4 linked regions of the Homo sapiens genome follow. The protein of the gene in region 1 interacts with the protein of each later gene in a biochemical or structural test. Each region holds a gene or a part of one and is shown on either strand. Other genes may lie near its edges.

Region 1 (7,776 bases):
GGCTCTGCTAAAGCAATTAGTGATGTAAACTTTAATGGGTCAGTTAACCTTCCTGTGGCTTAGTTTGCTCATCTGTAAAATAGGGATCATAACAGTATCAATACCACATGATTGTTGGACAGATTGAATCAGTTAATGCAGGGGAAGTACTTAGCATGACACGTATTCACTATCATTTCCTGGAGTAAGAGCTGTGTGTGAGTGGGTGTGAGCATGTGTGAAACCTTTTCTCTGCAATCTCAGTTAAGAAACCAATCCAGAATTTAAAGTTCAGGGCCTAAATGGGTGGTTATCTTCTCCCAGTTCCATCCTATCCCACCTTTGCTCTTCCTCCCGCCCACAGGAGCTGTTGGTCCTTGATTGGGCTGGAAGACCTGGTGGACCCTAAGTGATCTATAAGAGGAGAATAGAGAACAGGGAATGTCTTCAAAAATCCTAGAGGGACACAGAGGCTGAGAGGCAGGCAGTCCTGCAGGGGTCTTCTGATTGGGACAAGGAGAACCTTGGTCTTCACAGGCCAATTCTGGTCAGTTTCCCCCATGGACAGATGAGGAAACAGGCCCAGGAATATCCAAGGTCTCACACTTCCCATCTGTCAAGTCTTGTTGATGCTGTTGTATTCATGTCTCTCAAAGGGAGATAGAGTTTAGGGAAGAAAGAAGGATCAACTGTGTCTGATACCACTGGGAGCTTAAGTAAAGGGTTCTTTTACTTCATAGCATTTATCCCAATTTGTAATTCAGTATTATTTGTGTGGCTGTTTGGTGTCTCTTTCTCCTATATGAGTGCTAGCTTCATAAGGGCAAGGATTTTGATTCTTTAATATTTAGTGCTTGCCACATGCCCTGAACACAGCAGGCATACAGGCTAACCAACATACAGTGGCATGAAAGTCATGAAAGTGAGACACCTACCTCCTCCAGTGCCAAGAGAGCATAACCATGCACCTGTCACTCTCCTCAACACCACCCCCAAGCATGAGGCCCAAAAGCATTAGCTAATCCCCTCCTCCAGCCACTAAAACTTAAAGGCCAGGTGTGGTGGCTCCCATCTGAAATCCCAGAACTTCAGGAGACAGCAGCAGGAGGATCACTTGAGGCCAGGAGTTTGAGATCAGCCTGGGCAACATAGCTAGGTCCCATCTGTACTAAAAATTAGCTGGGCGTTGTTGCATGCCTGTAGTCCCAGCTACTAAGGAGGCTGAGGTGGGAGGATCACTTGAGCCCAGGAGGTGGAAACAACAGTAAGCTATAATCACAGCACTGAACTCTAGCCTGGGCAACAGAGTGACACCCTGCCTCAAAACAATTTTAAAAATAAATAAGAGCAAAACTTAGATACCACGTGGTCACCCCAACATGCAAAATCAAGTTTTCCCCTACTGAGAAGAATGGGGACTTGACAGCTGAGTTACAGAGAGATAATCTTCTTCTTCTTTTTTTTTTTTGGTTTACATCCTCAAGATCATGACTTGTGAAATTTGAATCGAATACACATGTAATTCCAGAGCAATGTTGCCTCCGCATACCATCAGCAATTCACTTGGCTACTGGAAGTCAGGATAAGCTTCCCAGAAGAGAGGTACCACTTGGGCTACCAGTATAAAAGGATGAAAATATCAGAGTGATGGTGTTCTTTACAACGTTGAGTCCCTGGACAGCCTGTCCACTGATGCTGATATCTGAGCCTAATGCTTCTCTGAATGTTGAGATTGAACTTTGATCCAATGAAACTAGAACGAGAAAGAAGATAAGTCTTTCATTGTTGATAAGGACATTATGTTTCTCATACTTGTATGATTATTTTTCCTTAGCTGTACTATAATTATCTGCTTATTTGTCTCTGCTCTATGTGCTTAGGGTACAAAGTTGACCAAGACCAACTTTGGTTGGAAGCATAGTACTAAGAGCACAGTACTGAGAGCACAGCTTTAAAAAACATGATGAAGGCTTTAATACAGGAAATGAGCAGGGGAGAGGCATGTGGTGGTTGGATGTATCTTCCTTGACACAGTCAGTGCAGCTCTCAGTAGTCAAGTCCCTACATGTTAGAAGATGTTACCTTCTGTGGAATTAAGTGGCAGAACTTGCCTTCAATTATTTTCCTTTGCAGAACAACACCAACTGCATTAGTTAGGACACAGTGCTGGCTGCATTTAAGTCCCAAGCGATGATTAGTCTCTCACTGTTGGTATAGATTCAAACCAATCAGACCACCTCCTAAAGTTTGTAGGGCAGGTAAATCCTCATCTTAGAATAAAAATCATCTTACCAAGTATGTGTTTTAGAGGCAAGAAGAAAACATATTTGTTTCTGTAAGAGTTTTGTTTAAAAAAAATATAAGAAAGGCTCTCGGTTTAGGTGAGGTAATGAAGTTGTTGATAGTTATCAGATGACACTGGAATCTTTACTTCTCTGAATGTGTTCTGTGCATCTCTCAGTGTGGGAACATAGAGAGGGAGATCCTCCAGCAATGCCACTGATATGGTCAGAAACTGCATCTTTCTTTCTCCCTGCTGAGATGAGATGGAGTCCTTTGTTCTAGAAGACCCATGGTGGTGCCGCTGGGAGTAACCCTTGAGACAGGAACACAAATCCCAACCAATTTGTGGTTGCAGCCTTGAGTCTCACTATTTCCCATAGTGATGCGTAGCAGGGAATGGCAGGTGCACCAGAGCAGGAGAGGACCTAATATCTCCCTTCCTGTTAGCTTTTTATAAAGTTTTATTGTGATCAGTAGCAGTTGGGAAGCTACTTGCAGTCACTGAGCCTCAGTTTCTACATCTGTAAACTGGGGATAGTAGCATGGCCCCTACTTAATGTGCTCAGCAAAGCCACTGAAAGGAGACAGAAATGTATCTAAATTCCCTGGACTTTTATCCTACCTCTCTTGGGGATTGTCACCACCTTCCCATGTTTGTCCTTTTTGGTTTGATGCTTGCTGTCACTTCTTTCCTTAGGTGCCTCTCTGTACGGCTCTTTTATCCCAGGGATTCCAGAGTTACAGCACATGCATACCACCATCCAAGCATGTTTATTTGTCTCCTGCTTCACTAGGCTGTCCCCAAGGAACATGTGGCTCCCGGCACACACCTGGCACAACACTGCACATGACATTCACCCACTTGGCCTTGAATCTGACAAGGAATCTGGCATGATGTTCACCCACTCAGGCCAGGTGCCGAGCAGCCCTGGAGGCTTAGGGGCCAGAGGGATGGGAAAAGGTGTCTTTCTGGGGTGAGTATCAGTTTCTGCAGGAGGGCTGAATGTGAGAAAGAATAAAGAGAGAAGGAAGCGAACAAGCACAGCTTAAACATCGCCTATTTCTATTGAGTTTTAAGAACGCTGTGATTTTGTTTGTCATGCAATCCATTCATCAGGCCAGGCAGACACAGAACTTGGGTGTGAGTGACGATAATGAGCTGATATAATTTTCACACCCTCATCACTGAGATCTCTCCCATCAGGAATGGGTCAGGGAGCTCACAGGTGGCAGCAACTGCTATTACAGGCCTCATCTCTACCAGCTCCTGGGGCCTGCCCTCCTCCCATTAGAAAATCCTCCACTTGTCAAAAAGGAAGCCATTTGCTTTGAACTCCAATTCCACCCCCAAGAGGCTGGGACCATCTTATTGGAGTCCTTGATGCTGTGTGACCTGCAGTGACCACTGCCCCATCATTGCTGGCTGAGGTGGTTGGGGTCCATCTGGCTATCTGGGCAGCTGTTCTCTTCTCTCCTTTCTCTCCTGTTTCCAGACATGCAGTATTTCCAGAGAGAAGGGGCCACTCTTTGGCAAAGAACCTGTCTAACTTGCTATCTATGGCAGGACCTTTGAAGGGTTCACAGGAAGCAGCACAAATTGATACTATTCCACCAAGCCATCAGCTCCATCTCATCCATGCCCTGTCTCTCCTTTAGGGGTCCCCTTGCCAACAGAATCACAGAGGACCAGCCTGAAAGTGCAGAGACAGCAGCTGAGGCACAGCCAAGAGCTCTGGCTGTATTAATGACCTAAGAAGTCACCAGAAAGTCAGAAGGGATGACATGCAGAGGCCCAGCAATCTCAGCTAAGTCAACTCCACCAGCCTTTCTAGTTGCCCACTGTGTGTACAGCACCCTGGTAGGGACCAGAGCCATGACAGGGAATAAGACTAGACTATGCCCTTGAGGAGCTCACCTCTGTTCAGGGAAACAGGCGTGGAAACACAATGGTGGTAAAGAGGAAAGAGGACAATAGGATTGCATGAAGGGGATGGAAAGTGCCCAGGGGAGGAAATGGTTACATCTGTGTGAGGAGTTTGGTGAGGAAAGACTCTAAGAGAAGGCTCTGTCTGTCTGGGTTTGGAAGGATGTGTAGGAGTCTTCTAGGGGGCACAGGCACACTCCAGGCATAGGTAAAGATCTGTAGGTGTGGCTTGTTGGGATGAATTTCAAGTATTTTGGAATGAGGACAGCCATAGAGACAAGGGCAGGAGAGAGGCGATTTAATAGATTTTATGCCAATGGCTCCACTTGAGTTTCTGATAAGAACCCAGAACCCTTGGACTCCCCAGTAACATTGATTGAGTTGTTTATGATACCTCATAGAATATGAACTCAAAGGAGGTCAGTGAGTGGTGTGTGTGTGATTCTTTGCCAACTTCCAAGGTGGAGAAGCCTCTTCCAACTGCAGGCAGAGCACAGGTGGCCCTGCTACTGGCTGCAGCTCCAGCCCTGCCTCCTTCTCTAGCATATAAACAATCCAACAGCCTCACTGAATCACTGCTGTGCAGGGCAGGAAAGCTCCATGCACATAGCCCAGCAAAGAGCAACACAGAGCTGAAAGGAAGACTCAGAGGAGAGAGATAAGTAAGGAAAGTAGTGATGGCTCTCATCCCAGACTTGGCCATGGAAACCTGGCTTCTCCTGGCTGTCAGCCTGGTGCTCCTCTATCTGTGAGTAACTGTCCAGGCTCCTCTTCTCTGTTTCCTTGGACTTGGGGTGCTAATCAGGCCTCTCTTTCCCTTATCTGTTTTGAAGATCAAAAAAGATGTTCAGGCCGGGCGTGGTGGCTTACACCTGTAATCCCAGCACTTTGGGAGGCTAAGGCAAGTGGACTGCCTGAGGTCAGGAGTTCAAGACCAGCCTGGCTAACATGGTGAAACTCTGTCTCTACTAAAAATACAAAAATTAGCTGGGCATGGTGGTGCACGCCTGTATTCCCAGCTACTTGGGAGGCTGAGGCAGGAGAATTGCTTGAACCCGGCAGGCGGAGGTTGCAGTGAGCTGAGATCATGCCAGTGCACTTCAGCCTGGGTGACAGAGTGAGGCTGTCTCAAAAAAAAAAAAAAAAAAAAAAGATGTTCAAGGAGCAGTAGCTTAAGTGTTGGATGCTACAAACATATAGAGGTTATTGTAGATCTTATGCAGCTCTATAAAGGAATAAATAAGCATCTTCCCCATCCATCTTTAGTGGCAAGAAGGGTTTTGGGATAGCATTGATTGAGGATGATCTACTTGACAATAGTTTGGACCCAAGGAGGATAAGGAAGGAAAGTAGTGACGGATCTCATTCCAAACTTGGCTGTGGAAACCTGGCTTCTCCTTACTAAACTAGAATTTGGATTTTACATTTTCCCCTTTATGTTGCAGTAGAAGAGGATGAATCCTCTCACTGGTGGGATCCTGCCATCCTAGAGCAGGTAGAGAGAAGAGTCACTCCCCACTGTGGGTAGTGGAGGCTTCTCACATGTCACATTTCACTTCTACCTCAATTTCACTCTTACTAAGATTTGGGAATCATAATGACAGGAAAATAGAAAATATAAACCTCATTTTAATTCTTTCACAGAAAGGTTAGAAATTCAGTGAGTTGTGGCAACATATTTTCCATCTTCTGACCTTTTAACACTAATTGATATGGCTTAAATTCATTCTATTTTAAACCAGATTTTTTTGGAGATAGTCTATTTCCAACATGTTCCTTCTAGGTGACAAATGAGGGCTGTTAGTTCAGTATTTGTTACAATAAATGTGTGTAAAATAACCTCACCTTTCCAGAATCATGTCAGGAATATGAATCTAATGCACAAATGTATAACTCTATGACAAGATTGCATATATCTTTTAAAATATACCTTCCCAACGTTCATTTTAATACCCCTATTTCAAACAAACCTGCTTAGCAGGTTATGTTAAACGCTCAGGGCAGAGGAGTAAGCAAGACTGTGAGCCAGTGATGACAGCAAAAGCATCCAGGTAGGATCAAAATGGAGTAAGAAAATATTCCTCATCCCTCAGGGTAGAACTCCAAAGAGATATTCATGGGTCCTGGCCCCGTAGTGGAGGTCACTCAAAGGACAAACATGTTTGCATCTCATCTGCTTGAAGCCTGGACACAGAGGCACCATCTGTGTCACTCTGTGTGTGGTCTGCCATGTTGTGGGGTGGTCACTACAGACTCAGGCAGCTGGGCAGACAATACCTTAGCCTTAGATGATGCTGATGCAGCCCAGGAGTCAGAAACTGTAGTGCAGACAATGCCCTCCTTAGGCCAACACAATTAAGTGCAATAGATGACTGGCTTTTCTGTTAGCCTCTTCATTGGAACCAAAAGCAGCATTACTCTACCAAACAGAGGGGAGCTGGAAAGAAACTACACAGTTTGCCCAGCCTAGCCTCTGCCTTGACACGGAACCATGTGAGTCTAGACATTCACCTAGATCATTCCTTGGGGACCAATGCTGCTGACACATTAACTCAATAGTTTGTCCTGGCCTGAGAGGTCATGTAACTTGTAGAAAGTTTAGAAGCAGAGATTAGTGTCATTTATTTGCCATGGCTGTGACAACAAAGGAAGGAACAGGAGTGGGAAAACCCAAGGCCACCCTGGTTTTGGTAGATGGTGCACACGCTTCCACTAACTGTTCTGGGGCAAAGATCCAAATGCACTATTGGGCCTGGCTATGCTGCTTCTGCTGGGTCCCCCAAACATGAGCCTCCACGCCATTTCTCAGTTGTATTTTACCACATATTATCACAGTCACCGGATTTGTACAGAATATTTGGAACCTATACTGTCTTAAGGGCTACCCTTTAAAGAAGAGAAAACAAGGTTTTAATTCAACTGTCTGGAACATTTTATGTTTACTTATGTGGAATACTACATCTTTTGTTATAAACAGGAGGGAATGTGGACATTCGAAGGCCCCTACCTTTTAGCTAAAAGCCCATATGAAGCATATGGATCCATTTATACACACCATGCTTTTCAGCTACATTTTCCTAATTTGCCTCTCTGGGGCCAACCTTGTGGGACTAGCAGATTCATGGTTGAGTTGAAGGATGGTGACCTCTTCCATCAGCTTTTCTTCTTCCTCCAGTCTTCCAACCCTCAGTAACATCAGACTGGGAAGGTCTTCAGACATCCAGAAACCCCAGTTCGGGGAGTTCATACATGACCCATCAAAGATGAGTTGCAAGCAGGCCTGCCTTAGGGAGCACCAGCCTTAATGGGTTTTCCTACAGAGATAGTTGATGGGCAGATGCAATAAACTGACTGCTTTGTGATTGACCACCTTGAGAAAAATTAGCATGTCTGGCTATGTTAGTCTTTTCTTGCATTGTTATAAAGAAATACCAGAGTCTGGGTATTTATAAAGAAAAGGGATTTAATTGTCTCATGGTTCTGCAGGCTGTACAGAAAGCATAGTGACTTCTTCCTCTAGGGAGGTCTCAGGAAATTTACAATCATGGCAGAAGGTGAAGGAGAAGCAGACAGATCTTACATGGCTGGAG
Region 2 (7,026 bases), about 24 Mb from region 1:
TTCTTTGCCTTGGCATCTAGGAAGCTCTGGGCAGAGCTGTGTGCTCAACCACAAGAGCTTCCCTGGACTGCTTTTTGACACCATCACCTCCCAGAGTCCTTTTCTCAATTACTAGGCTCTCAGCTTTCAGTTCCCCCTCTGGTTTTTGGTTTGGTTGGGGAAAGCATGGAAAGTGAAATTCAACAAACTCACAACCCAGTTGAGCTATAAAAGACCAACAGACCTTGGTTCAAAACCTAGATATGCCACCTATGCACTCTGGGATCCTGGGCACACGATTTATCACAGTCCGTCTCCGGGATGACCATGCTCACAGTGCTACGTTGGTTACATGAGACATAAACACCCAGCGCAGACACTCAACGGTTACACTCAACTCCTTTTATTTTCATTAGAATTTTCTATTATTTATTTATTTGGGGAATTTTCTATTTTTCATTTATTACTGTATATTTTGAGATGGGGGTCTCACTCTATCACCCAGGTTGGTGTGCAGTGGTCTGATCATGGCTCACTGCAGCCTCAACCTCCCTGGGCTCAGGTGATCCTCCCACCTCAGCCTCCCAAGTAGTTGGGATGACAGGTACACACCACCACACCCAGCTAATTTTTAAACACTGATGTTTAAAAACACTAATTTTTAAATAGAGATGGTGTTTTGCCATGTGGCCCAGGATGGTCTTGAATTCCTGGGCTCTAGTGATCCGTCCACCTCGGCCTCCCACAGTGCTAAGATTATAAGCATGAGCCACTGTGCCAGGCCCTAGGATTTTTAAAATAAACAAATTTATTCATGTCTTCAGCATCCAGGTAACTGATCTAGAAAGATTTAGAGTCAGAATATTCTTCTTCAATTATAAAATGATTACTGAATAAATTATCAACTACAGAAGGAACTTGAGACACAATTTTTCTTTTCTTTTTTTTTGCAGAGACAAGTGAGCATTTATTTTTGTGCCTTTCTTCCTATGTATATTTCAAGCCTTTTTCAAGGCCCCAGGAATCTCCGGATTCAATTATGTCCCCGGGCTTGGTCGACTGCTGCAGGACTCTTAGGGAGCCTTGTACAAATGCTAGAGTTACTCATTCACCAACATTAAACCCTAGGATAGAAGATGCAACAAAGCAAGACTCCTTTCTCCACAAAATGTGATTTCAGACAAGGCAGCAGCCAACGTAGAAAACGCTGGAATTTTTCCTTGGAACTGGACTGTGATGAGAGGTGCCGCCATGAACGTAAGCTACTGTCTTTTCTTTTCTTTTTTTTTTTTTTTGAGATGGAGTTTCGCTCTTGTTGCCCAGGCTGGAGGACAAAGGTCTGATCTTGGCTCACCACAACCTCCGCCTCCCGGGTTCAAGCGATTCTCCTGCCTCAGCCTCCCCAGTAGCTGGGATTACAGGCGTGTGCCACCACGCTCAGCTAATTTTTGTATTTTTAGTAGAGACGGGGTTTCTCCATGTTGGTCAGGCTGGTTTCGAACTCCCGACCTCAGGTGATCTGCCCGCCTCAGCCTCCCAAAGTGCTAGGATTATAGGCGTGAGCCACCGGGCCCGGCCAGCCACTGTCTTTCCTTTGACCCTTCCTTTACAGTTTTTGAAGATAAAGCAGGAAATAATCTTCTCTGAAGATACTTGATAAAAATTCCACCCCGCCCCCAAAAATAACACAAGCTTCCAGTTCATTGATAAAAATTTACTGTAGTTTGGCACCTGGCTCTAGTTCAGCTGGCGGATGAGCTGATTGATGCACACACCCCCAAGAAGATGGAGGTGTGCCAATCTCCTTCAGAAAGTCCACTATTTTTGGTAGCATGACAGTCCACTGAGAGGTGGAAAGGGGACAAGAACCATGAGATCTCCTGGAAATGCTTCCTTGGGAAGGCAATTTCATGAATGAGGTCTTCCAAGCAAAAGACACCAAGCTTTCCCAGGTGCTCCTCAATCACTGTGTTGTCAGAGGGATGGTCTTATTCTTGACCTTGGCTTGTCTACGTTTCAAAATGAGTTTCTGGACAGACTTCAGATTTGGAAATCCCCAGGTCACATAAGGTTACATACTATACGCTGCATTTTTAGGTTTAAGTCTTGCAATGGCTCTCCGCACCAGTAAACTCACACCATCAATCCTTTCGACGCGTACAACAAAGGCCAAGGAATGTTTATCTGGCGATTCCAAGGTGTGAGGTTTTACTTCTAGTCGTCTGAGACACACCTTGTCATGTTTCTGCCGCCAGGAATCATGTAGGAATGATTCCAGTCGTTTAAACCTGAGCTCTTTTCCTTCCCTCTGCTCCTCCTTTGCCAAAAGTGCCTACTTTGACTGGGTGGCTTTGAGGCCTTGATAAGCCTTCTGCTTTCAGGAGATTTTCTGGAGCCAAAGGGATTTTTCTTTGCTCCTGCTTTGCCATCTTTCTAGTGTTGCAGCTACTGAACATGCGCAACCCCACCACTGACACAAAATTTTATACCTGGATGGAAAACTAAAGTCCTACCAAAAGTTCCTACTGTACTTTGGAATAATCTTCAGAAGTACAGACCAGGCCAGGCGCAGTGGCTCACGCCTGTAATCCCAGCACTTCGGAAGGCCGAGGCGGGCAGACTGCTTCAGGTCAGGCATTCGAGACCAGCTGGGCAACATGGTGAAACCCCATCTGTACTAAAATTACAAAAAATTAGCCAGGCATGATGGCACACACCTATAATTCCAGCTACTCAGGAGGTTGAGGCACGAGAATTGCTTGAACCCAGGAGGCAGAGGTTGCAGTGAGCCAAGATTGCGCCACTGCACTCCAGCCTGGGCGACAGAGTGACAGGCTCTGTCTCAAAAAAAAAAAAAAAAAAAACTACAGATCAGACCCAATTTTGACATCTGAGCTCAGTCAATATGCAGGAGAAAGCTCAGCAGTAAACTTGGGGGACAGAAGCCATATTTATTCATTCATCCATTCATCCAAGTGCCTACCTTATGCCTGGCATTGTTCTATGCCCCAGCTTACACTCGCAGAAATGATAGGTTCCCTGTTCTCAACTGAATTCACCTTCTAGTCCAACCGTATTGCCACTAGGGAGGGGAGAATTAGACACCTTTTATTAAGTCACTGTTTATCCTTTATGAAAGCAGATGAAGAAGAAAACATGCAATAAGACAGTGACAGTGACCGGGCACAGTGGCTCCTGCCTATTATCCCAGCACTTTGGGAGGCTGAGCTGGGTGGACCACTTAAGGCCAGGAGTTCGAGACTGGCCTGGCCAACATGGTGAAACCCTGTCTCTACTAGAAATACAAAAATTAGCTAGGTGTGGAGGCACGTGCCTGTAGTGCCAGCTACTCGGGAGGCTGAGGCAGGAGAATCACTTGAACCTGACAGGTGGAGGTTGCAGTGAGCCAAATCGTGCCACTGCACTCCAGTCTGGGCGAAGAGAAAGGAGGGGTGACCGAAGCAGGGTTCCAAGATCAACCAGCAATGGTACCATGGACAGATCTTGGAACGTGGTAGGGAGGGGAAGAGAGGGAGAATTATGGGTCAATTACGGGTCAGCGCAGCAGGAAGTGACAAGGGGCTACAGTAAGACCACAGCAGTGGAAAGAGATTTAAAGGGCCGGGCGTGGTGGCTCACGCCTGCTGTAATCCCAGCACTTTGGGAGGCCGAGGCAGGCAGATCGCCTGAGGTCAGGAGTTCGAGACCAGCCTGGCCAACACAGTGAAACCCTGTCTCTACTAAAAATACAAAAATTAGCTGGGCGCGGTGCCGCGCACCTATAATCCCAGCTACTCGGGAAGCTGAGGCAGGAGAATCACTTGAACCTGGGAGGCAGAGGTTGCAGTGAGCTGAGATTGTGTCACTGCACTCTGAACAACAGAGCAAGAATCTGTCTCAAAAAAAAAAAAAAAAAAAGACTAAAAACTTACAGGACTTGGTGGTGGTGGGAGACCCAGAATGGAGAGGAAGGGAAAAGGGACAGGAGTCTTTTGTCCTTGGAGCTTCAGGGCCCAGGAAGTCGGTGAGGCCACTGACAGATAGAGCTCTTGTTGTGGAGGTTTCGGGTAGATGGGCTGGGAGCTTTTGATCACTGCTGTGACGCTGAATGACTCCTGAGTTTGCAAATCACGTTACGTAAGGAACGCGTCCAACGTGTCCATGTTAAGACTGTGTGGTTTCATGAGCAGTCAAAGGGTCTGAAGCCCTTCACCAAAACCAACAGTGGCTTTTCTCCACAAGACCACAAATACCTGACGGAACATTCCTGATGCCAAACTGCACTCTGAATGATGCCGGGCACCACTGGCTAATGCACTCTCCTGTGTATTCAAGAACTGCCATCCCTGTTTGCAGTGTTGAAAACTCAACCCAGGTGACCTATGGTCACTACATATGAGTTCAGAAAGTTCAGAAAGGTGACCGTAGTTCACGTGTTCCTAACCAAACCTGCAAACCTTTGTACAGGCCCGGCTTACCCAATGCACTGATGATGCATGCCCACGAAGATCAAAGTATCACTAGGACACAGTGCTCTAAGAACACCGGCATCACCACCGCAGAGGTGATGTGACGTGAGCTCAGAAACAGGGCTGTAGGAAAAAGTGCCGAAGATAAAAGGAGGGCAGATAAATAGAATGAGTAAGCACTGTTCTTAACTTTCACCTAGAAATAAATTACATCTGTTCCAAGTTAGAGGACACGCCCCACAATGCCCCATCTTCCTCCTCATTACTACATCCAAGTAGACAAAAGGCAACTTTCCCCCTTCTATTCTCCTACCAAATGTCTCCTAAAGAATTCAATTCTTATAAGCTGGACATGGTGGCTCACGCCTGGTAATCCTAGCACTTTGGGAGGCTGAGGCGGGTGGATCACTTGAGGTCAGGAGTTTGAAACCAGCCTGGCCAACACAGTGAAACCTCATCTCTACTAAAAATACAAAAAAAAATTAGCCGGGCGTGATGGCACGCGCCTGTAATCCCAGCTACTTGGGAGGCTGAGGCAGAAGAATTGCTTGAACCTGGAAGGCAGAGGTTGCAGTGAGCCAAGATCACACCACTGCACTCCAGCCTAGGCGAGAGAGTCAGACTCTGTCTCAAAAAAAAAAAAAAAAAAAAAAAAAAAGAAATTCAACTCTTGGAGAACAGTCCACAGCTGACAGCACCACAGTCTGGCCACCAACATATTCTAAGTTAGCCTTGAAACTGACGCATTTCGGGAAATTATGTGTACAATTCTCTCAGCTAGGTACAGATGCTGCACAAAGGAGATCCGAATGCCACACCCTCCAGCACTCCAATGAAAGGACAATTCTTAGATATCCCCCTATCCAAGTCACCTCTTTAACAAGTGAAATAAATAAGCTTCCCACATCAACAGTTTGCTGCACAAGCCACCAGAAGGATCAGGTTCCCCGGGGCTTTGTTCACAACACGTCCAAGCATCAACTGAGTTGCCACACCGACCAGCGTCAGGAGTAACAGTTACTGGGCTGGGCGCGGTGGCTCATGCCTGTAATCCCAGCGTTTTGGGAGGCTGAGATAGGAGGCTCACTTGAGGCCAGGAGTTTGAAACTAGCCTGGGCAACATAGCCAGACCCCACTTCTACAAATAATAAATAAATAAATAAACATACAGAGAGAGAAAAGGAAAGAAAGAAACAAACTGATGAACGTGGCTCCAGTGAACCCAACCAACTGGAGCCACCAATCTGCAAAGAACCATGGTCTGCCCCCATGGAATTCCTCCATCTTCTCTCCCTCTTATATGCATACACACACACACACACACACACACACGCACGCACAGATGCAGACAGGCGTGTGCACACTAATCCCAACAAGAACACAACTGATGTAAACATCTCGCTTGGGGAGGAAAAACTTTTAAGATGTAGAGCTCTAAAACAGTATGATTACAAATTTAGACACAGTAAAAATTTCCCAAATGGTTGTTCATTCACCCAGAGAGGATATTAGGCAGTAAGAGAATATTCAGTACAAGAAAACACTGTCCTGAGCCAGACATGGTGGCCGGTGCCTGTAATCCTAGCTACTCGGGAGGCTGAGGCACAAGAATTGCTTGAACCCAGGAGACAGAGGTTGCAGTGAGCCAAGATCACACCACTGCACTCCAGCCTGGGTGACAGAGTGAGACTCTGTCTAAAAAAAAAAAAAACACACAACACTGATCTGAGCTAGTCACATAGCCCTGACCTTTTAAAACACCTCCCCATCTCTTCCCATGGTTCCTAGGACCATTTCAGACAAGTGCCACCACGCGACCTCAGCCTCATGCAATCTACACCCTACATGCCCCCCAGAGCTGGTGTGCCTGGGTGGGCTCAGAGAACTCCTAGCAATCCTCCAAGACCCAACTCAAACATCACCTCTCCCCTGGAGCCCTGCTGTGGAAACAAACAGCAGGCTCAGCACTAATAAAAGCCTCACCCCATCATCTTGAGAATGAATGCAACACACCGTGCCATTCTTGTTGAATTGTATGCTTGCTTCCCTCCCTGTGAGAGTTCTCAAGTGCCCAAACCAGAGCCTACACATATCCTAAGGCCGGATGTGTGCTTTTTTATGTGTCACGCTACAGGGATCCAAACAGCGCCAAGAAGATGAAGAAGGACCCACTGCTGAAAGGGTTAACATGTTCTGAGCTGTCCCAGAGGCAGGTGGAGTGGGTTCTTTCTCTGACTTTAGTGATGAAGAAACTAAGGCTTGGTATAGGTCAGCGGCCTATGCAAGCAGGTAAGTGACCTCTGACTCAGATGCTTCTCCCACCTGCCCGGCGGGTCCAAATTTCTGCCCAATGCCAGATGACAAAACTGCACAGCAAAACAAGTTGTTGTTTTTTGGGTTTTTTTTTCTGAGACAGAGTCTCACTCTGTCACCCAGGCTGGAGTGCAGCAGCACGATCTCGGCTCACTGCAACCTCCGCTTCCCAGGTTCAAGTGATTCTTCTGCCTCAGCCTCCTGAGTAGTTGGGATTACAGGTGCACACCACCACACCGGCTAATTTTTGTATTTTTAGTAGAGA
Region 3 (7,026 bases), on another chromosome or scaffold:
GAGTGGGAAGGGGAACAGGATCTCAGGCACAGGTGGAGGCCCGGGCTCTGGGCAGGAAGAGACTGGAAAATGCAGACCAAAGTGCTCCCCTCACCTTTAATTCTCCTCTTCCCTTCTACTGACTGCCTGGGAGCCTCCCTCGATGCCATTCTTGTGTTCCATGCTCTGAGACTATGTCACAATCCAGACTTTCACAATACAGTCCCACTAGTTTCTAACTGTGCAATCCTCAGGGACAAAATCCCAGGCCAAGGCCTACAGAGTAAGAAGAGATCACACTAGCATGTGCCGTGTGTGGAAAAAGGGGGTAAAATAAGATAGTCACAGAGCAGGGACTTGTGTCTGTTTCTCCACCAGGCTCTCCTCTTCCATCCTGGGAAGTTACTTTCTGGCACCGGACAAGGGCCACAGAGTAAGAAGGGATCACACTAGTATGCACTGTGTATGGAAAAAGGGGGAAAAAAATAAGATAGTCACAGAGCAGGGGCTCGTATCTGTTCCTCCACCAGGCTCTCCTCTTCCATCCCCGGAAGAGTGACTTCCTGGCACCGGACATGGGCCAGGTGCACAGCAGGCGGGCAGGCAGGAGCCCTCATCGCGTGGAAAAAGCAGCATATCACAGCCGGGAGGGTCTAACTGCTAGCAGAGGCACAAAACGGGATGGGACACCATGCTGAGACCTGAACAGGGCCAAGCCTGACACAGGGGAAACCAGGGCAAAGGTTTCAAGGTAAAAACAAGTTTGGCTTGTTTGAGAAACAAAGAGAAAGGGTCAATGTGATCAGGTGTGGGCATTAGCAGGGAGGACACAGTGTTATTTGCTGAGGTGGGGGAGGTAGGTAAGGACCAGATCATTCAGAGCTTTCCAAACCAGGGCAAAGAGATACAATTTTATTCTAAATGCAACAGGAAGCCATTGAAAGGAACTGAACAGAAAAAGGACAATCTGTTTCCAAAAGATCAAGTTTTTTTTGTGTGCTTCTCCTAGAAATCACACTTTTCAATGCCATAAATAGCATTTATTACTCAAGCTGAAAACTCATAAAACCACCACCCATTTGATGGAACCAATGAAATCCTGAGAACTGACTGCCCAGTGGCCACCATGAGAGGTGGCAAAGATACAAGAGAGGCCACACCAGGGCATCTGCTCTCAGCTTGGAGGAGAAAGATATTCTAACCACCCTGCAACCAACCTCGTGGCACATGCAGAGGGGATATGGACCCGGAAGGGGAGGGCGAGAGATGAGCGGGACCCACTGAGGGATTTATCAGAGCAGGAACCTCCTCGGATTTCCATTTAAACAATCCTTCCCAGGGCAGTCATTTAAGATGCCTTTCACCAAACAACACATGCCTCCTCACACATACCCACTACACGTGCAAACAATCTCTTTCCGAACCAAAACCACACCGATGATTCAGCCCCTGCCAGGTGAGAGCAGCATCTGGGTCACAAACAAACTGAGGCCGTGAAGACTCCACCCCGACTCCCTCTATTTAAAAATTCCTCTACAAGAAACAGGAATGGCTGTTTCCTTCACCTCCTAGAAGGCAACATAGTAAACTGACAACAGATGGAAAGAAAGGCATATTTTTGTCCATTAACTTTCCAAGGGTTTTGGCTTTGTTCAGATATTTGCATCACAAATTCCCTTTGCTTTCTCCCTGGTTCCTCCAGAGAACTCTCCAGTGATCAAGGTCTCCAGCAAATGACAGCAACTCTGTATCAGTGGGATGCACTTTTGCTTTTAAAGCTACGCTAGGTTCTCATCAATACTCCTTGGATCTCAAGCCTCAGCAACAGACTCAGCACTGAAGACACTGGGTCGCAGCGCCCGCAGCCTGGACTGAAGCCCTGGCTTTGCTCCTTATCGTCTGTGGGACTTGCTGAGCAAGCTGCAAAATCTCCCTAAGACATACCGTCTTACCTTTAAAAGGGAGGACACAATCACCACTGACCCCATAGGGTTGTTTTGAAGATTAAAAGCACAGGCCGGGCGCAGTGGCTCACACCTGTAATCTTAGCACTTTGGGAGGCCGAGGCGAGTGGATCACTTGAGGTCAGGGGTTTGAGACCAACCTGACCAACATGGTGAAACCTCATCTCTAATGAAAATACAAAATTAGTCAGCCTGGTGGTGCATGCCTGTAATCCCAGCTACTTGGGAGGCTGAGGCAAGAGAATCGCTTGAACTTGGGAGGTGGAAGGTTGCAGTGAGCCGAGATTGCACCATTGCACTCCAGCCTGGGCAACAACAGTGAAACTCCATCTCCAAAAAAAAAAAAAAAAAAAAGAGAGATTAAAAGCACAAACGCAAAGAAGGTTTTATGTGCAAAAAGCACTTGGCACACTCCCTAGCACATACTGAATGTCCATAAACATTCAGCCAACGTCCACTGCTATCACTTTTCTTATTAGCTCACTAGGGATTGTTGGGGAGGGGAGGATTAAAGAATAGCATTTACTTGGGGACGATTAATGAATGGCATTTACTTAATTAACACTTTCTGAGGAAGACGAGGGAAAGAAGTCTGGATATATTTTGTGACCTGGCTAATTCTGGACACAGCTGCACAAAGCTTAATGAATAGGTCTGCCAAGAACAAACAATAGCAGGCAGTGAAAGAAACAAGCTGCAAACTGACACTCCCCAGGCCCTCAACTACAGAAGAGTTCAAGTGATTCCATTTCAGACAGGCTCCCGTGCCCACCAGCCAGGCAGAGAGGACCCTTAACTGAGCCTAGAGGCTGTTAATCACCCCATCCCTTCCCTTAGGTCCACATCCCTTATCCCTCGCCCCCTCCAGAGCCTCCCCAGCGTCAGTGCTGGTTCAGATGCCATCATTTTGGCATGGGCCTGCTAGAGACAGAATTCTACGGATGTAAGAAAGTAACTTCTTGCCATCATCCACAGAGCCGTCAGCTCTAAGCCAACAGGCAGCACAGGCCAGATTCTATTCAACAGCAAGAACGGAGCTGTCCCCACCCAATCTTCAGCTCACCCTCCCGGTCCCCATGTTGGAACTCAGTAAAAGGCACAGATACCCAGTTACTATATACACTCAAGACTATGTTCCCAAGAAAACTAGGTCCAAGGGTAATAGGAAAGGAAGCACACTTGATTAAAATGTTCTGTTTTTCAGAATTAAGGGCAATGAATTTCAACACCCATACTCTGTTCCTCTATCCCCAAGCCTTGGAAAGCACTGGTCTATGCAATGTAGGCAGCCATGTTCAAAGGAAAATAACAAAGAGCAAGTCCCTACAACAAAACCTGCTAGAAAGGACACTCTTGAGACTCCAGAAATGGCTCTGAGCCTGCTACTCAGTTTCCCATGTAGTCAGCTGCTGCCTCCGGTCACTTTTCTGATGCTTTGAGCCTTCAGACAATGAAATTCTTTCATAGAATAGACAAGGTATTACTTGCCACAGCTTCACTTTTAAGAGAATTTATAAGCTAAAGGGGATAAAAAATTATTCCATACATTTCCCTTTTTAACAGAAGTACACAGCCAAATTCAGGAAGGGAGGTGAATGAGGCGCAACCAAGTTCCTCCACTCCTAAGAACCGAGAAATGCACACACTGGTGTGCCACCCCAGGGTGCTCTGGTAACATCCATCAAAATTTAGAGTGGCTCATGCCTGTAATCCCAGCACTCTGGGAGGCCAAAGGGGGCAGATCACTTGAGCCTAGGAGTTCGAGACCAGCCTGGGCAACAAGAGACTACATTTCTACAAAAAATACAAAAATTAGCTGGGCATGGTGGCTCATGCCTGTGGTCCCAGCTATTCCAGAGGGAGGACTGGTTGAGCCCAGGAGGTCAAGGCTGCAGTGAGCTGAGATCACACCACGGCCTGGGCAACACAGCAAGACCCCATCTCAAAAAAAAAAAAAAAAAAAAAAGTAGAAGTGTACATCCTTTCACCCAAGAATCCCACTTACAAAGATCTACCATAAGGAGGTAATTGCAGGTGGGAACCTAAAAACATGGAAGGAAAGAGGATTCCGTATATTAGGATCCCTCTATACAATAAGGAGGCAGCCTGGGAACAGGAGTTACTGAAATTCAGGACTGGTCCCTCAACACCTAGTTTAGTGGGGAAAAAGGGAGATTACAGAGCAGCATGCAGAGCACATTTCCATGGATGTAAAGCACATCCACGAGCAAGGTGTTGTAGTAGTGAGTGTGCAAACTGCTCAAGCTGGCCACCTTCGGGGAGCAGAGCTCCAGGCAGCTTTGAGTTTCTTCTTTGCAGTTTTCCACACTGTCCACTTCCTTAACATGATCATGTATTATTTTCCCCTTACACAATAAAGTTGTATGTTTAAAAGCTCCTGAAATGGGATGATTTCCAATCTTGCAAAGCACACATTCCTGAACAATTATATTTCATGTGAATATTTGTATTTTGAGTCATTTTGTTTACTAGTTAACACTATAATTCCTGAGATATGTTCCTACTAAATGGACCTTCCACATAAAAACAATTTATTTTAAAATTTTAATTCAATCAAAATATAGTCACTTAAATGCCTTCTCTACATATTTTTTCCAGTGTTCTCACATATATCATTTCTCCCAATGCAGATGGCAGTGACAGAATAGTTCCCACTTCAGAACAAGGAAAGTGACTGAAAGAAATACCTGACTTGCCCAAGGTCACCTCCATGATATGTCTAAGACCAGGTCTAGTTTTCCTAACCCCAGCCCAGTGCTTTCCCATGAATGCCCAGCGGGACAGGGTTGTTCAGACTCCACTCAACTACAAAGGCACTTATCAGCCATCTTCACCAGGAGGACTTTTCAGAATACCAGACATTCACATTCAGTAAAATTGTGCATGTTATTTATTCCTTGATTGACCAAAGCCGGCTTGCATGTGTTTTCCCTTCCTTATTTACAATTTTCATCAACCTTTAAGATAATCAAAAAGCAAAAGTTAATTTGCTGTTTCTTTACTGTTTTCTTTACTGTTTCAAAACAAAGTTGCCTCTTGGAACCTCTTTTCAAAAGTAGCAACAGGTTACCAAAAAATATAGAGATATATATAGAAATATACAAAAGCCTCACGGGTTCACATTCCCCAGGTGGCCTTCTAAGATGTGGTTTTACTACCACTTTACCCAAGATGCCTAAGCCACCAACACTACCAACAATAACTTTATATTTCCCTTCTACAGACTCTGTAATTTCTAAGTTTTATTTACCTAACGGTATATATTAAATAATAATAATGTTCCCATTTTACATGCATCAAAGGCATATTTGCCAACTGCAGCCTTTAGTAGCATGAGATTCAGAATACTATCAAATTTTCTTGCAAAAAGCAAAGGCATTTAGTATTTTAGCCCTAAATATGGTAGCTTTAACAAGGGTAAAGATACGTGTTCTATGTTTTTCAAAATTAAGGGCAATGAATTTCAGCACCCATACTCTCTTCCTCGATTCCCAAGCCTTAGAACCACTGGTCTACGCAACATAGGCAGCCATGTTCAATGGAAAATAACAAAGAGCAAGTCCCTACAATAAAACCTGCTAGAAAGGACACTTTTAAGACTCCAAAAATCAAAGTGAGTCAGGAGCCAATAGCTTCTATGAGGCAGAATGCTGTAAAGAACATTTAAGGCTCAGGTCCAAGACTATCAGAATCCCAGGAACACTAGAAAATGTTCTACAGAAGCAAGTTTCCATTTTTATGATGTAAAGGGAGAGGAGACAACTTCACAAAAAGACATTCTGCTTTATAAAATTTTCCAGGACAGTATCTATTTCACGAATCAAACACCCACTGACTTGAACCAAAAGCAACAGCTAATGGAAGTGTTGTTAATTACAGGATACCTTTCTCTCTCCCCTCCACAGCTCTTTTAAAAACTGAATAGATGCTGCTGCCCAAATCACAGAAAGGGAAATGCAAACATTTCTCCCCCTGGTCCTAAATGCCTAAGTTTTCATTTCAAATAACTGTCCCTTAAAGTTCTATGATCAAGCAAAGACTCAATTTCACAAATATAAACTCAAAAACTAGAACTCAGGATTGAAAAAAAAATCTAGTTCAAAATATGTAGGCAATAAAGCTCAAAATCTTTTAAGTATCAGACAGTAACTAAGCACCTGCTGCTATGTCGACTGCCATTAATAATAAGCCAGTCTTCCCTCTTAGGTTTCTACCCCTCCGCCTAAACAACAAAAACAGCTTTAGTGGCCATTATTTCAGGAGGTCGGAGCACATGCTGCACCTGTGAGCTTCAACCTGTGTTCTTGGCTTGTACCTGCCAGCAGAGCAGGATCCCTCCACCATCTCACCACACACCTTCTCAACATGAACACGGACATGCACATAAATCTAGGACATTCTGAAAGAAGGGGAAATACTCAGCCATGAGAAATCCTGTCCATACGGATGGGGGATCTCACAGTAAACAAAGGTCTAGCCCATAATGACTGAAAGTTCATTTGAGAGTTAGAAGGAGAAGATAAATCTTTCCTATTTAGGTAAATTAGGTGAGATAAAATATTTGTTAGTTAACACACAAAGGCTTCATGAAATTCTGGAGCCTTTCAACAATAGAAGACAGGAAAGAGGATCGGGCAAGCGGGGAAGAGAGACAGAGACATTCTGCACTCATTTCTGTTTTAAAAGTACGTTTCAGACAAACAGACTAGCCTCATAACAAACTACCTGGCAGGGCAGTGTGCTGAAGAGCTCTGAGCGAGTGAGCTTATTGGAGATATAACCCCAGGAGCACAGGAAGTCACCTGCAAGGAATCCTGGCTAGAGTCTCAGATAGAACCCAGAGAGAGGCTCCCAGAGGCTTTGCCGGGGGCTGGGAAGCCAATGACCAGGACATGCAATAAGCAAGAGATGGTCACAGAAAGTCAAAGCAAATAATAAAGACGGCAAATGGAAAAACACGTCCATAAGAGGTCGAATCGGGAGGTGCCCAGAGGTCAGACACAATCCAGTGAAAGGCTAAGTGGCCTTGCTTGTTCCCAGAACCACATGTTGGCAGACAGTG
Region 4 (7,026 bases), on another chromosome or scaffold:
TTCTGTAGTGTATATGTACCATATTTTCTCTATTCAGCCCATAATCAATGGGCATTTAGGTTGATTCCATGTCGTTGCTATTGTGAAAAGTACTGCAATTAATACACCTGTGCATGGGTCTTTATAAAAGAACCATTTATAGTCCGTTGGTTATATACCCAGTAATGGGATTGCTGGGTTTCATGGTATTTTTACCTCTAGGTTTTTGAGGAATCGCCAGTCTTCCACAATGGTTGAACAAACTTACATTCCCACCAACAGATTATAAGCAAGCCTTTTCTATACTACCTCACCAGTATCATGATATTTTTTGAGTTTTTAATAATAGCCATTCTGACTGGTGTGAGATGCTATCTCATTATGGTTTTGATTTGCATTTCTCTAATGATGTTAAGCTTTTTTCTTTTTTTTTTTCATATGATGGTTGGCCACACGTAGGTTTTCTTTTAAAAGGTGTAACAATTTTTTAAATGCTTGAAATTTTCATTGATAATCTGATTTTTTCTAAGGTACTATTTTGGAAAATCATGATTTCCTTATATACCTAACTAATTATAAAAGTTGAGAAAATTAATGTGAGTATTCTATTTACATTAGTCTTTGAGTAGTTCTTATTTACTAACATCCCTTGATCTCATTCCTACTCTTTATACAGTTCTCACATTCTATAACTTTTGAATTCCACTCATGGAATAAAATATTTTCTTTATTGTAACAGGTTCTGTGGAGATTTGATGGGAATAAACCAGATACCTTAGGTCTCAATACTCGGCTCTACAAGTGGATACCCCAGAATGACCTTCTAGGTAAGACTCTGGTGAACAAATACTGAATATATTAGTAACAGCACATTAGAGTGTTAATAGTTCATCATGAAACAAGCTTATTGAATATTTGTTAAGGAAAAACAAAATGTAACTTCTTTATATTGATTTTCCAGTCTTAAGGGAGAAAGAATACATTATAATTTTTGGCATTTTATGATATACACCCACATTCTTTATAGTCTGAATCGGGGGAATCTTTATTTCAGGTGTTATTATATCTCACAAAATTTTTCAATAACTTCCTGGGCTGTCTCTCTGTCTCCTATTTCTACAACTTTACACCTGTTTTTTTCCTCTCCCGCAGGGTTATTTGAAATGCCACTAAAAATAATAGCTCTTCTATCACCAGTGACTCTGTATTTTCTGAAGAATTAAACTGCTAATCTTAATCATACAGTGATGATACATTTCACGATGAAGTGTGACCTGTCCTTCCTCAATCCTAGCACCACCACCAAACCACTGCCTGCTGCCTTGCCCACCCCATATATCACACTCTGTGACTGCACTTAAAATAAGAGTTCACTTCATGCCTATCTCTTTGCTGTCTTCTTTTTTGCACATTTTTGAAATCTAGAATGCAATTTTTCATTAGCCCAACTGGAAATCTTGTATTGTTTTGCAGTCTGAAGTCACACACACCGTATAGCCTTCAGTTACATACCCAGTACAAGTACGTGTTTTTTCCTCCGAAGTCTGAAACACAATTTTAATTTAGTTCAGTGTTTTAGCTGGAAAACACTGTCACTTTCAGAGCCTTTCATTGTGCATCTCATTTTATTCCTATGAGTAATTTTGCTAAAATTCATCCAATCCTAGGTCATCCAAAGACCAGAGCTTTTATAACTCATGGTGGAGCCAATGGCATCTACGAGGCAATCTACCATGGGATCCCTATGGTGGGGATTCCATTGTTTGCCGATCAACCTGATAACATTGCTCACATGAAGGCCAGGGGAGCAGCTGTTAGAGTGGACTTCAACACAATGTCGAGTACAGACTTGCTGAATGCATTGAAGAGAGTAATTAATGATCCTTCGTGAGTAGAACAATATTTTTCACTAGGTGGTATTTACAGATAGCTTCTCTTGTCAATAGTGAGTGTGAGTTTCATCCTTTTTATAAGAGACTAATTTTGAAAGAATTTAAATGATTTAACCAATCTGAAATCTGCTTTTATTTTTATAAGTTATTTAAAAATTGAATTTGAAACACATACATCTAAAGAATAGCCAGTTAGTGAAACAATTTTCTACACAAAAATAATTTTAAAAGGATATAGATAATACAAAAAATACATTTCTTAAAAATTTGACATAATTAATCCATAGAAGAAAGGAAGAATAAACCTGAAATAATATAATAAAATATTTTAATTAGATATCTAAAACACCTCAGAGTATAACCATTTTCTTGCTGAAAAATTAACTTTTATTATTATCATTATTGTAACAGACTTGAAAATGAGATTTAATTTTGATAGCATAAAACCCCCCTGTTTATGTTATAAAATCCAAATATATTTAGTATGTTTACAGAGCCATGAAGCCATCACTATTACATAATTTTAGAACATTTTTATCAACACAAAAGAAACTGCAATGACACAGAAGTCACTTCCTATGACCGCTTAGCCCTGGTCTAACTAATTTGTTTCCTTTCTCTATAGATTATTCTCTTTAGATATTTCATATGAATGGAATCATACAGTTTAGGGTGTTGTGAAATGACATTTCACCTAGGCTAATTTTTTGTTGTTTTTTTTTTCTGGTTTTAGTTTCATTCATGTTGTTGTGTGTTTTAATACTTCATTTCTTTTTATAGCAGTTTAATATTTTTTAGTAAAGATATGTCATATTTTAGTTGTTCACTTATCAGTTCATTGGCCTTTTGATTGTTTTCAATTGTGGCTATTAGGAAGATTGCTACACATGTTTTTGCATAAACATGTTTTCCTTTCTTTAGGGTTGATACTATAAGTGGAATTGCTGCTTCATGTGGGAACTGTATGTTTATGAAGAACTGCTAAACTGTCTTCCAAAGTACTTGTTTCATTCATGACTACCACCAGCAGTACAACATGGTTCCAATTCCTCCATACTTTTGCCAAACCTGTTATTCCCTGACTTTTTGTTACAGCCTTCTTAGTGGGTGTAAAATGATCTCTCATCCTGGTCTTGGATTGCATTTTCATTACGGCTAAAGGTGTTGAGAATCTTCATACGTGCCTACTGATCATTCATATATCTTCTTTGAAAACAGTCTATCCAATCCTTGGAACATTTTTAAACTTTGCTATTTGTCTTATTATTAAGTTTAAGAACTATTTATATATTATGGGTCATGTCAGATATATAACTTGTAAATATTTTGTCCCACTCTGGGTGCACTAAATTTTACTTTTTGATGTTGGTCTTTGAAGCACAAAAAATATAATTTTAAGTTAAATTTTTAATAATTGATTTTTTCAAACCCAAAGATATCAATGTGCAAAATTCCTTGTGGAGTCCAGCTACCATCAATTCAGCATTTATAGCTACTATCAATAATGTTTTTTTATATAAGCAGGGTATCATCTAAAGGAATACTTGAAAAATACTTTATCACAAAAAAAGAAGGATAATGAATGATAAAAATACCTTTAAAGAAGATAGGAAATAATTGAAAAAGAACACAAACCAGCTTGGACAAATAGAAAAAAAATATATAAAGCAAATTGGTAGATTTAAATATGATTATACAAATACTTTCACTCAATCTAAACAGACTTTAGAAAAGAGCAAGTAATTAGTAAAGACATAAAACATTTGAAGAACACAATTAACAAATGGAATCTTATAATGTAAAATGATACAAACGCACATACATACACACACAATAAACATATATGTATCATATATATCAACTTGAAGACACATTTTCCTAGAGCATGTCGAATAGTTATCTGAAGTGATATGTGGTGGGCAATAAATCAAGATTTAGTACATATAATAAGGTTCAATATCATAAAGACTATATGATCCAGCCATAGTGGAAGTAAGGGAGGTTATAAAAACTATAACTAACATATCTTTAAATTTTAGAGATCAAGAGGTGAATCACAACTATGTCTCCACTTTTATCTCAACAATTCTACTCCCAGTTATATACCCAACAGATATGTATAAATAAATCTAATACCATATAGAAGAATATTTATGACAGAATTATCAATATTGTCCAAAAATTGTTAGCAACCCAAATATCTATTAATCATAAAATGAAGACATAATCTGTGCTTTATCAATCAACAGAATACTACACAGCAATGGAATTACCCAACAACTGCTACATTAAAAAAAGACACTAATGAGTACGTATTATATAATTCAATTACATAAACAAGCAAACTAATGTATGCTATTCGAAGTCAGGCTAATCCTTAGTTGGTGGACAAAAGTGGTGACTAAATGGTTCAGAAAAAGAGAGTTATTCTAGGCAGGTTGTGATATCCTATACCACAATCTGAACAGTAGGTAAATCGATATCTTCACCTCAAGATAATGTTCAAGATGATCTTACATTTTTGAACTATTCACTTAGTGTATGAATATTTATCTTTTGTATTTAATATTTAAATGTTTATTTTATGAGATATATAATGCATTTTAAAATTCTAGGACTCAAATAGCAAAATAAGCACAGAAAATAGAGAAAATCCTAGTGGTTCCATCATAATGTGGCCAGTAAAAGCCTCTCTTAGAGGTAACATTAGAAGGAAGCCACAAGAAGGGAGAGAAGCATTCCTTGGGTTGTAGCAAGAGAGAGTACTCCAAGAGCGGGAGAGAGGGGAAAAAAATGTGTAAGGTACTAAGATGAGAACACCTTTGGGAGCTTAAAGTAAAATAGAAGGCCAATCTAGAAGACAGTGTGCAGGGGAAAAGTGTTAGGAAAAGAGTTTGCCCGTGTCTAAAAATGTAGGGTTCTGTAGACCAAATAACAGAGTTGGATTTTATTCTAAAAATAATGAGAAGCCAGGCAAAAGTCTTAATCAGGGGAGTGCTTTAAACTGACTTTAATTGAAAAAATCATTCTGGCTACAGGGTGGGAAAGAGTAGGAGACAAAAGAGTAATGTAGAAGCAAAGTGACTAGCTATGAGGCACGTCACTCACCATGACACAATTACTTTTTCGGAACTTAGAGATGATAATTCTCATATTGCATTTTCACGATCTTTCTCATAGCACTTAAAAGGGCTCATGATGTTGAGCATGTTCTCCGTATGTCTGTTTGAGAACTAAGAGTGTAATTAGATTGTTCATAATACAAAGGATAAATGCATAAGGGATGAATATCCTATTTTCCATGATGTGATTATTTCATATTGTATCAAAACATCTCATATACCCCATAAATATATACACTTAATATGTACCCTCAAAAACTTAAACAATTAAAAACAAATTAAAAATGCCTTATATTTTCTCTGCTTCAAAAAAAATTAACTTTCTCAGCTAACATTCAATTTCTACTTTAAAAATATTTCTCAATGAGAGAAGTCCAATTTAAAAGCCAAACTTTCTATGATGACTCAAATTAAAATACACAAATTCGATGTCAATTCTTTGACATTTATTTTGAATTATTTGGCCCTTTAAAAGCCTTTCGTAAACTTGATATGGACAGGCAAATTAACTTACTTTCAGTATTAGGGAGGAGACCATGCTTCATATCGTCTTATGCCCAATTTCTGCCTCCAAAGAAAGAAGTAAAAACTAAAAGGCAGAAATGAAATCCACAAGCAGACAGCCCAGTGCCACACCCTGTGCCTGATAGTTAAAGATCGACCCCTGACCTAACCAGTTATGTTATCTATAGATTCCAGACATTGTATGGAAAAGCATTGTAAAAATCCCTGTCCTGTTCTGTTCCATTCTGATTACTGGTGCATGCAGCCCCCAGTTATGTACCCACTGCTTGCTCAATCGATCATGACCCTCTCACGCAGACCCCCTTAGAGTTGTGAGCCCTTAAAAGGGACAGGAATTGCTCACTCAGGGAGTTCAGCTCTTGAGAGAGGAGTCTTGCCGATGCTCCCAGCCGAATAAAACCCTTCCTTCTTTAACTCGGTGTCTGAGGGGTTTTGTCTGTAACTCTTCCTGCTACATTACTGTCTTTATTTTTATCTTTCAGATATAAAGAGAATGTTATGAAATTATCAAGAATTCAACATGATCAACCAGTGAAGCCCCTGGATCGAGCAGTCTTCTGGATTGAATTTGTCATGCGCCACAAAGGAGCTAAACACCTTCGGGTTGCAGCCCACGACCTCACCTGGTTCCAGTACCACTCTTTGGATGTGATTGGGTTCCTGCTGGTCTGTGTGGCAACTGTGATATTTATCGTCACAAAATGTTGTCTGTTTTGTTTCTGGAAGTTTGCTAGAAAAGCAAAGAAGGGAAAAAATGATTAGTTATATCTGAGATTTGAAGCTGGAAAACCTGATAGGTGAGACTACTTCAGTTTATTCCAGCAAGAAAGATTGTGATGCAAGATTTCTTTCTTCCTGAGACAAAAAAAAAAAAAGAAAAAAAAATCTTTTCAAAATTTACTTTGTCAAATAAAAATTTGTTTTTCAGAGATTTACCACCCAGTTCATGGTTAGAAATATTTTGTGGCAATGAAGAAAACACTACGGAAAATAAAAAATAAGATAAAGCCTTATGAGCTCGTATTGAAATTTGTTGAACTTATATTGAAATTTGTTGTTCTAATTCACAGTATACTCACAAAAAAATTTACTCAGCTTAACTATATTTCACACATTGTACATAAACACAAGATCATTAAGAAGTCCACTGACAGTATCAGTACTGTTTTGCACATACTCAGAATAATTTGGCTTCATTTTGAACAGGATTGTATTGTTTTAACTGCTGCTAAAGAAACTATTACATAGTTAAATTGTACAGAAAGTCTCTCTTCCTTTTGATATTTTAAGATGAGTAGTATTGCTTGGCTTTTATAATGCATGCAGCTTTATTCTCATATTTTTCCTAAAATTTATGGCCAAGTGTTTACTGTTTTAGAGCTTAAGTCATTTCTCAGTGGAAATTATGGGGAATTAGAAATACAGCAACTCTTACCTTCTTCCTACTGTAAAATTGAACTATTTTGTAACATCTTTGGTTTCATGAGCCAATTCTATTTTTTCTAGAT

The links.
Region 2: the proteins of CYP3A4 (region 1) and POR form a complex in vitro, tested with the Homo sapiens proteins (one study listed by BioGRID).
Region 3: the proteins of CYP3A4 (region 1) and CYB5A form a complex in vitro, tested with the Homo sapiens proteins (one study listed by BioGRID).
Region 4: the proteins of CYP3A4 (region 1) and UGT2B7 interact in far-western blotting, tested with the Homo sapiens proteins (one study listed by BioGRID).

The regions. Positions count from the first base shown.
Region 1 is NC_000007.14:99,781,169-99,788,944, reverse strand, and holds the start of CYP3A4 (cytochrome P450 3A4), read left to right. Parts: upstream 1-4,760; 5' UTR 4,761-4,863; coding exon 4,864-4,934; intron 4,935-7,776.
Region 2 is NC_000007.14:75,918,137-75,925,162, reverse strand, and holds part of POR (NADPH--cytochrome P450 reductase), read right to left. Parts: intron 3,062-7,026; exon of another isoform or gene 2,963-3,061; intron 1-2,962. UniProt on the Homo sapiens protein: This enzyme is required for electron transfer from NADP to cytochrome P450 in microsomes. It can also provide electron transfer to heme oxygenase and cytochrome B5.
Region 3 is NC_000018.10:74,281,957-74,288,982, forward strand, and holds part of CYB5A (cytochrome b5), read right to left. Parts: intron 1-7,026.
Region 4 is NC_000004.12:69,106,457-69,113,482, forward strand, and holds the end of UGT2B7 (UDP-glucuronosyltransferase 2B7 isoform 1 precursor), read left to right. Parts: intron 1-718; coding exon 719-806; intron 807-1,646; coding exon 1,647-1,866; intron 1,867-6,000; coding exon 6,001-6,280; 3' UTR 6,281-6,531; downstream 6,532-7,026. UniProt on the Homo sapiens protein: UDP-glucuronosyltransferase (UGT) that catalyzes phase II biotransformation reactions in which lipophilic substrates are conjugated with glucuronic acid to increase the metabolite's water solubility, thereby facilitating excretion into either the urine or bile.